Linked DNA regions of Homo sapiens: region 1 is linked to region 2. A link means that fine-mapping ties the variant in region 2 to the expression of a gene that starts in the linked region. Tissue or cell type: whole blood. Region 2 holds a variant in brackets; the other region holds the start of a gene. All regions are shown on one strand. Distances are between the middles of the regions.

What was found. PIP is the estimated chance that this variant, and not a neighbour inherited with it, causes the effect.
Region 1: AKR7A3 starts here. The variant in region 2 is fine-mapped to the expression of AKR7A3 in whole blood (TOPMed, PIP 0.91).

The regions. Positions count from the first base shown.
Region 1 is chr1:19,285,824-19,290,823 of GRCh38, reverse strand. It overlaps AKR7A3 (aldo-keto reductase family 7 member A3), which reads left to right and starts at 2,054. Exons shown (of 7, transcript NM_012067.3): 1 at 2,054-2,328; 2 at 4,452-4,639; 3 at 4,832-4,936. The coding sequence starts at 2,115. It overlaps LOC124903867 (a long non-coding RNA gene), which reads right to left and starts at 2,764. Exons shown (of 3, transcript XR_007065521.1): 1 at 2,464-2,764. RefSeq lists enhancers at 1,177-1,998, 1,999-2,821.
Region 2 is chr1:19,210,731-19,215,730 of GRCh38, reverse strand. It overlaps EMC1 (ER membrane protein complex subunit 1), which reads left to right. Exons shown (of 23, transcript NM_015047.3): 23 at 1-71. The region is part of intron 1 of EMC1-AS1 (EMC1 antisense RNA 1); the gene reads right to left. Among named protein-coding and RNA genes, the nearest start is that of EMC1-AS1, 2.8 kb to the right of the region's middle. RefSeq lists a silencer at 4,381-4,450. The variant C/T (reference allele first, on the strand shown) is at 2,776.

The sequences.
Region 1 (5,000 bases), 75 kb before region 2:
ATGATTGGAATCCTTTCAAATTTATTTATTTATTTATTTATTTATTTTTAATATGGAGTCTCACTCTGTTGCCCAAGCTAGAGTGCAATGGCCTGATCTCGGCTTACTGCACTCTCCACCAACCAGGTTTAAGTGATTCTCCTGCCTCAGCCTCCTGAGTAGCTGAGATTACAGGGGCACGCCACCACGCCTAGCTAATTTTTGTATTTTTAGTGGAGACGGGGTTTCACTGTGTTGGCCAGGCTGGTCTCAAACTCCTGACCTCAGTTAATCCACATGCCTTGGCCTCCCAAAGTGCTGGGATTACAGGCGTGAACCACCGCTCCCAGCCTCTTTTACATTTATTAAGACTTGTTTTATGCCTCCAAATATGGTATATCTTGGTGGATGGGCACTTGAAAAGAATGCATATCCTGCTGTTGTTGGATATTCTATTCATGTTGTTTATGTGGAATTGGTTCATAGCATTGAGTCTTGTATACCTTTACGGAGTTTCCGTAAATTATGACTGATAACTGTTCTACAACTATTGAGAATGGTGTGTTGAAATCTCCAATTATAATTTTGTATTTATCTACTTGTTCTTTAGTTCCATTATTGTTTTTCATGTATTTTGATGATCTATGCTTAGGTGCATATATATTTAGAATTATATCTTCTTTATTAATTGACCTCTTTGTCATTATGGTATGTCCCTCTTTGTCTTTGGTAGTTGTTGTTGTTGTTGCTGTTTTGAGACAGGGTCTCAATCTGCAGCTTCGACCTCCCAGGCGTAGATGATTCTCCCACCTCTGCCTCCCAAGTAACTGGGACCACAGGTGCATGCTACCACAATTTGATAATTTTTAAAATTTTGTTGTAGCGATAAGATCTCCCTGTGTTGCCCAGGCTAGTCTCAAACTCCTGGACTTAAGCAATCCTCCCTTCTCAGGCTCCCAAAGTGCTAACATTACAGGTGTGGGCTAGTATGTCACCCACTGTGTGGGCCAGTATTCTTTGTTTTGCAATCTACTTTGTCTGATATTCACTTAGCCATTCCAACTTCTTAAAATTTAGTTTTGTCAGTGTATGTCTTTTCCCATCTTTTTGCTCTTAAACTATCTCTGCTTTTATATTTGAATAGCTTTCTGGTATTTACCATATAGTTTGGTTTTGCTTTTTTATCCATTCTAACAATCACTGCCTTTTACTTGTGAGCATTTACATCATTTATATTTATGTAATTATTGATATGATTGGGTTTAAATCAATTTTGCTATTGGTTTTTCATTTGTTCCATCTGTCTATTGGTCTTTTTTTTTCTTTTGTATTTGGAGACAGATTTGCCCTCTGTCACCCAGGGTGGAGTGCAGTAGAGCTATCACAGCTCACTGCCGCTGGGCACTGGTCCATTTTTCTATCTTTTTTTTTTTCTTTTGAGACAGGGCCTCCCTATGTTGCCCAGGCTGGGTTCAAACTCCTGGGCTCAAGTGATCCTCCTGCCTTGATCTCTCAAAGTGTTGGCATTACAGGCGTTAAGTCACCAGAGCCAGTCAGTTTTTTTTCACTTAGGTACAGAATTCAATGCCAACAGTTCTTTTCTTTCAACACTTTAACCATGTCACTCCATGGGGACGCTGTCTTGAGCCTTTGGTAAGCCTCATTCTCCAGGACCACACGGCAGGCGCGACAGCCCTAGGTCCACCCCACCCCGTAAGCGCTCCCTCCGGGAGGAGACAGAAACCCAGGACAGCTCCGGGGCAAGGCCGAGGAAGGAGGGACGACGGGGCAGGGAGGCCCGAAGAGTCCCCGCCTTTTGGGATAGTCGCCACCCTTGGACCCCCTCACCCTTGGGGACGTTGAGGAGTGTTAAAATCTCCAAGACGCGAGTCACCGGTACGAAGCCACAGCCATTTCGCTGCTTGCTCGGTGCAAGTGCAGAAGGTCCTAGTAGCCGAGCGTGGAGTCGAGCTCGTGGGCGGCGTCGGGCACCTTCGGCCGCGCCCTCAGCTGCACCCGCCGGTGGGCGGGGCCCGAGCCCGTCTCTAAAGCCACGAGGCCGCCCGCTCCGAGCCTGGTGCTTCCGACCGCTGCGCGCGGCTCCTGGGCTGTCACAGTCTCCCGTTGCCGCCGTCATGTCCCGGCAGCTGTCGCGGGCCCGGCCAGCCACGGTGCTGGGCGCCATGGAGATGGGGCGCCGCATGGACGCGCCCACCAGCGCCGCAGTCACGCGCGCCTTCCTGGAGCGCGGCCACACCGAGATAGACACGGCCTTCGTGTACAGCGAGGGCCAGTCCGAGACCATCCTTGGCGGCCTGGGGCTCCGGCTGGGCGGCAGCGACTGCAGAGGTAACAGTGGCCCCTGATCCTCCCCCTGCACGGTGCAGAGCTGAGCCTGTCCACAGCCGTGTACCGCCCCGCTCTCCCTGGCCCCGGGGCAGCACCCAAAGTTTTGTCCCCCCCACCGCCCCCACCCCTGTTCACCTCGCAGCCTTGGGAACACCAGGCTCCTTAGGCACGTCTAGCTCCGGACAACTTTTCTCTCGTCTTCTCTTCTGTTCGTCTCTCTTCTCTTCCGGGAGGTAGCCAGCACCCTCACTGACGCCTGGATGACTTGGTCTTGCCTGGAATGACTTGGCTAGCCCCTCTCTGGAGCACAAAAAACACTGGGATCTGGCATTGTGCAGCTCCTGTCCCCACCTGTGCCCTCCAGGTGCCCTTGACGGGCCTGATCTGCAGAAATTCTGTTCTTACCGCCTGGCACTCCCTGGCACAGTCCAAAATCAGAGTTTGGACCCAGCACACTATCTGCTTCCTCCTTTGCACATGCCAGCCTGCTCGGGGCCCCGGACTTTGCTCTGAGTACCTTGTGGTACTCACAAGGGCACCTCACAAGGGTGGCAGTGCCCGGAAGCCTTGGCAGCTCCCTCAGGGGGATGAGGGATTGGGGTGGTACAGAGTCTCACTGCCCTCTCTGTGGGAGGCTCTGTCGGAGGCTATTGGAGAGAAATGGACACTAACCCACTCCAGGAAGCTCCAGTTCTAGAGATGGCTGGGGAGCCCAGAGTGACCCCTTCCTGGGAGGGACCCCGTGAAGAAAGAATGGATAGGAGTTTGCCAGGAAGAGTACAAGGGGCAAGGGCGTCAGGGCAGTGGGCATGGGTGTGGAAAGGCAAATGTGTTTTGGCAATGCCGCGGGTGCTGGAGGAGGCAGGTGTGGCCGGAGGGGAGGATGTGTGTATAGGGGCAGGAGGAGCCGCCCTCAGTCTGATGCCATTTGCAGTGCTTAGGCCGATGCCTGGCAGGCACATAGTGAGGGCTGGGAAATGTTAGCTGTTTGTTTGTTCTTAGTATTAGCACCATTTGCCTCCTTCCACTGAGTGTCTGAGTGGAGTCTTATTTCTCCTCTGATTCACCACATGGTAGATCCAGAACGAACCTGGCCTGTGCGTGCATCCCAGTGCCACGCTCTTTCTAGATCACCCGGCTGCCACTCAGTGAGAGCTCTAACCATATTTCTGATTTTTTTTTTTTTTTTGAGACAGGGTCTTGCTTTTTTGCCCAGGCTGGAGTGGAGTGGTGCGATAGGGCTCATTGCAGCTTTGACCTCTCAGGGCTCAAGCCATCCTCCCACCTCAGTCTCCTGAGTAGCTGGGACTACTACAGTAGCACCACACCCGGCTAATTTTTTGTATTATTCATTGAAACTGGAGTCTCACTTTGTTGCCCAGGCTGGTCTTAAACCCCTGAGCTCAAGTGATCCTCCTGCTCTGGCCTCCCAAAGTGCTGAGATTACAGGTGTGAGCCACCACAGATCTGTACCCTCTGCCTGGCCCTTATTTCTGATTTTTTTTTCTTTCCTTTTTTAATCCTTCTTTGTCTTCTGTCTGAGTCCAAGGTTGGCTGGCGAAAGTCCTCAGATCTGATCTGAAGTTAAATTCAATTGAGAAGCAGAGGGGTGGTGGTGGAATGGAAAAATTCCATATGAATAGTTCCTCAAACCTGCTCTTTGCTAGGCCTCAAGGGCTCCAGTGACTGCCCTCCTGCCAGCCTAGGTGACTTTCTAAGTGTGAAAAGTGGGAAGAGGACTCTCCACTCACCTGTTAGTCCAGTTCACTAGGAACTAAGATTCTTTTTTTTTGTTGTTTGTTTTGTTTGTTTGTTTGTTTTTTGAGAAGTCTCACTCTGTGAGACATTGTGCTGTGGCACAATCTCGGCTCACTGCAACCTCCGCCTCCCGGGTTCAAGCAATTCTCCTGCCTCAGACTCCGGACTAGCTGGGGACTACAGGCGGGCTCCACTATGCCCAGCTAATTTTTGTGTTTTTATTAGAGATGGGGTTTCACCATGTTGGTCCAGCTGGTCTTGAACTCCTGACCTTCTGATTTGCCTGCCTCAGTCTCCCAAAGTGCTGGGATTACAGGCATGAGCCACGGCGCCTGGCCCTGAATTTCATTTCTCTTTCCTCTCAGTGAAAATTGATACCAAGGCCATTCCACTGTTTGGGAACTCCCTGAAGCCTGACAGTCTCCGGTTCCAGCTGGAGACGTCACTGAAGCGGCTGCAGTGTCCCCGAGTGGACCTCTTCTACCTGCATATGCCAGACCACAGCACCCCGGTGGAAGAGACACTGCGTGCCTGCCACCAGCTGCACCAGGAGGTGAGGGGACCCCTGAGCTCTGGGAGGTGGTCCACTGCTGCTCTCCTTATCCTGATCCTAATGGTGAGAGCAGAGGCACCAGGGCTGTTCCAGGGTGGAGCAGGGAACAGCCCAACTCCCAGGGGCCCCACCCTGGCCTCCCTTTCCTGGTCTGGGCTGCACTATGTTCTGACTGGAGCCTCACCTGAGCAGGGCAAGTTCGTGGAGCTTGGCCTCTCCAACTATGCAGCCTGGGAAGTGGCCGAGATCTGTACCCTCTGCAAGAGCAACGGCTGGATCCTGCCCACTGTGTACCAGGTGAGAGCCAGGGCTGCAGAGGCCAAGGTCTCCAGAACTCCTGCTCATCCTGGGCTGTCTTTGC
Region 2 (5,000 bases):
AGTCTGGGCAACACAGTGAGACCCTGTCTCAAAAATAAATAAAATGAAAAAATTGCTTTTAAATCATGAAACCATTCTGTTTTCTTTACTTGGAATGTTTTCTTCCCTGCTTAAAATCTGGCTTGTCTCAAATCTGAACTCCTCCATAAAGTCTTCCCTATTGGTTTCAGCTACTCAGGACCTTCAACCATCCTGGCTGCTTACCACGTAACTTCCTGAGTGATATACCACACCCCTTTATTATTTCAGATATTGTGTCTCTTAGGGACTGTTTTCTGAATTACCTATTGTCCCAGACATGAAGTTGCTCCTTGACAAATAGTTCCCCAAATGGCTGTACCTTCTTCTCCAGAACCCTTAGGAACTTTGTCCTCAGTTTCCCAAATTTCTAAGACTTCGGTGACTTAGTAAAGGATTTTTTTCCTTTTTTTGAGACAGAGTCTCATTCTGTCTCCCAGGCTGGAGTGCAGTGCCTTGATCTCGACTCACTGCAGTTTCCACCTCCCGGGTTCAAGAAATCCTCCTGCCTCAGCCTTCCGAGTAGCTGGGACTCCAGGAGTGTGCTACCACACCCAACTAATTTTTGTATTTTTAGTAAAGACAGGGTTTCACCATGTTGGCCAGGCTGGTCTCGAACTCCTGACTTCAGGTGGTCTGCCTGTGTGGCCTCCCAGAGTGCTGAGATTATAGGCGTGAGCCACCGTGCCTGGCCCCAATAATTCTTTTTTTTTTTTTTTTTTTTTTTTGAGACAGAGTCTCACTCTGTTGCCCAGGCTGGAGTGCAGTGGCGCAATCTCGGCTCACCACAACCTCTGCCTCCCTGGTTCAAGCGATTCTCCTGCCTCAGCCTCCCGAGTAGCTGGGGCTCAGGCGTGCGCCACCATGCCCGGCTAATTTTTGTATATTTATGGAAATGCCAAGAGATAGTTCAATCTGCCTCTCTGGCAAGCCATGGACACCAGGTCTGACAAACTCTCTTACTCCTTAAGACAAATGCTCACCTGATCAATATGGGGAAATAAGCTGCATGGTACCATAATTTCTATTCTAAAAGGGAAAAGTATCTCTTTGGTATTGCTTTGGAAAACATTCTTTATAACTATCTTGCTATTTAAAAATTGACAATTATCCTTCCATAATTAAAACAGGTAGACAACATCCTGTGCTCTTTCATTTTTTTGTAAAATGTAACAAACTATTCAGCATTCTTGAAGCAACCTTTCAATAATGGAGATACTGGTGCTTCATATCAATCAGCTGTTTTGATTTTGTGGCTAAGTTCTTTATTTTAAAAAGACTATGTAAGTAAAAAAAATTTTTTAACAATATCCCCAAATTAAGGTGAGTGTTGCCTTCAAAACCTCCCCCACCATGTTTCCCAGAGGTCACCACTGAACAATTTGGTATCTCTCCAGGTAATACAATCTTCTGCAGCTTGGTTTTATCACTTAGTCTATCGTGGAGAGTGCCTATGTGAGAGGTAATGGATCTACACCATTCTTAGTGGTCACACGGTTGAAATTCTTAAGTGCTGTTCCATTAGAGATTTTTATGAGACTCAATACTCTTTCGGGAAAGTCTAATATTTAGGTCACCTTTCCAGTAAGAAATTTGTAACATAAAGGATGTGTACACACCCACCTTCCCATTTTTTTTTAGGAATCAGAGTGTGAAGTTAGTTGAGACTGACCTCCAACGAAGAAGCCTGTTTTCCACCAGCACTAAGGCTTTTATATATTTCTGATCCAAGAAGGTGACTTTTGCAGGATAGAGACTAAGAACATTTAGCAAAGTGTGTTTGTAAAATAGCCAAAGGTTTATATTGAAGCACCCTCTTCTCTGTCCCCTAATGTGCAATCTGAATGAATGGAAGTCAAGAAAGCAAACTAAAACTATAATTAAAAGGCACAATTACTCATACAAACTCCATTATACCTCATGGTTTGTTCACATCATGGCTTTGATGATATCATATATCCCATGTGCTGTGATAAAATAAGAACTAGACTAGATCAATCAACCAGAGGCCAGTTTATTGATGATAATGAATGAAGACTGCAATTGCAAAGAGGGCTAAAATACTCATGCTGCTGGAATATATATCCGCTCCTATAAAAAAGGTGATATAAGTTAAAATGCTATTATAAGTTTGCTTGGTTGTTACGGAGTTAGGAGATGTGATATCTTACTCATGCTTTTTACTATAGGCACATACCTTCCAAGGAGACCAGAACAGTCCCTCTCTGCACCCTGACCCCCCATGTCCCCACCCCAAACAGTGCTAAAGGGTACACACAGTGTAATCATTTGGCTCCACTTTTCCCAGAGTTTACATATAAACTACTTTCCTTCTGTTAAGTATCTGGCATACAGTAGGCTCTCTCTGTCATCATACTCTGTACCTAATTATAAAGCAAATGGATGATAAAGTATTTATAAATTTTTTCTTTTGACTTTTGACAACACAATTTCAGACTTACAGAAAAGTTGCAATAGTACAAATAATTCCCAGATCCCCTCTACCCAGATCCCCCAAAGGTTAACATTTTACCACATTTGATTTATCCTTCTCCTTCTGTCTGTCTCTCTCTCTGGCTCTCAATCTGATAGGTCAAAACTTTTGAGAGTGTAAATCTTAAAGTGACATTGTATTCTAGTCCCTCCACAGCTAGCAAAATTGTTTTTTTCGCTCTTAAAGCAAGAAGGCTGCAATAAGCATTTTCTTCTTTTAAGTTCATGCCAGGTGAATTGTTCAGTATCATGGGAAAAATAATA[C/T]TTGTGGGTTACAAATAATGTCTCATAATTCTAAATTGAATTAGGCTTCTAATCTAATTCCTTATATTCTTGGTAATTTGAAAACTAAGTCTGTTGTGAATTACCAAAAAGGAGCTGCTCTCCATTTGAAGTTTTCAGTATTGCAGTAGGAGTTTCAACAAAATATGCACTGATTACTTGTTCTTGTAACTTTGTAAAAGCTTGAGAACAGATTGACCTCTGTTGGCTCCTACGGGGTAACAGCTAAGGTTTATTCATTTACTTGTTTCTAGAAACACTGTATCTATTAGGATTTATTCCAAGCAACTCTGTATTAGATGGCTTAAAAGAAAAAAGAGATGTGCTATCTACCACTTTTGAAGCTCTGTAGTGAGGCACACTGACCTCATTTGTTTTTAGATTGCTGTACAATTTACAACCACCAAAGTGTGCAAATCATAAGTACAAATCATGGCTTAGTGACTACTGTGTGTGTATATCCATGTAAGCATAACTGTGTCAAGGTATAGAACTTTTCCAGCTCCCAGCAGGCCTCCTCATCACTACCTCTACACAAATCTTTAAACCATACCATTCATCAATGTCTGCCATTTTTACTTCATTGAATTCCCTGTAACATGACTGTATCATGTCTTTTATCATTTTAAATTTCAGTTCCTTGGCAGACACTTGGGATTAGAATGGAACAAGTATTTTAAGTCCTTCAGTTAATTCATAAAAGTTATTTATTGTTTTTTAGTTTCTATCTTATTTCCTGGACCAGAATATTAGAAGCTTGTGTTTCATCTAGAAGTCTTTTATTAGTCTCTTTTGTCATCTAAATTTATAACATAGATGCCATTCCAAATCTTTGTGGCAACACAAGACCAAACCTCCAGTACTGAAATAAATGTGGCATTTATAAAGGAAGTTCTTTATCTGGAGTGCTCTCTCCCAATCTATTAACCAGAAATATAAAGTATATAATAAATAATTTAGGTAAAGGTGAAAATCTCCCTGTGATAGTTTGCATTTGCCTTTTATTCTCCTGGAGAGGGAAGGGAGGACAGCAGATACATTTGATCTTTTATTTCCTGAAATTTCTCCAAGACAGCTTTTGCAGATTAATTTTGTCCTCTGGTTAAAATAAAATTCATGTCCCAAAGCCATTATAAAATTCTGGGTCTCCAGCCTTTCCTTAGGGCTCTGGTTCAGTATCTTGAAATACTGCAATATTTATAGTGTTATGGAAAGTTCTTTTTCATTTCTGATGTTTTTATGTTTAAGAAACTTGCTGTTATTATTATCCTCTGGTAAGTAGGCACTGAAGGAAAATCCCTACTGCTGTCATCAAAGCCACATTTTCCTCCAAGACCGGCTTTGACTTGACTGAATTTTATTTCGAATGTAAAGATGCAGGCTGGGCGCAGTGGGTCAAGCCTGTAATCCCAGCACTTTGGGAGTCCAAGGTGGGAGGAACCTAGGACTTCGAAAACAGCTTGGGCTACGTAGGGAGACCTGTCTCTTAAAAACAAACAAAAAAAATTAAGAGTGGTGGCCTGCACCTGTATAGTCTCAGCTACTGGGGAGGCTGAGGCTGGAAGATCACTTGAGCCAGGGAGGTGGAGGCTGCAGCCAGCTGCAACTCTGCCACTGCACTCCAGCCTGGGCTATTGGGCGACAGAGCAAGATCCTGTCTCAAAAAAGGTAAAGTAGGTCATATCTTAATAAAAGTGCAGATTAATCACTAGGTACCAATTCATTTATCAGTGTTACACACCAAGAACAAAAGCTCTTCCTAAACTTAGGGGGAGAATTTCAGGGCTTTAGGAATTTGAAACCGTCTTCACAGTTCCTTCCCAGTCTTATTTAGGCCAGCTGTAGGCCACAGGCTAGAGCTTGAAGCCGTCCACCAATATCTCACTCACAGGACTGTCCTTAATGCACGAATACCTTTCCTCGAGCAAACTGCTTTTCCCTCTTAGACCTTGTAGCCAGATCATTTTACCGGCAAAAGTCTCAGACATCTCCTGTGAATAAAAGCTTACATTCTTTCCTTGCCAGTAGAAAAAAGGGGAACACGTAAGCATACGTGGCAAATTGCAAAGAGGGATGCATTGTACGAGCTGGTCAGATTGTTAATGAGGGCAATCCAAACAGAAGAGATTTGAGTGCTAAGGGAATACGGATCAGTGATTAAAAGGTGTTGTGAGAGGGAGAAATCTTTGTAAACTATGGCGCTCTTT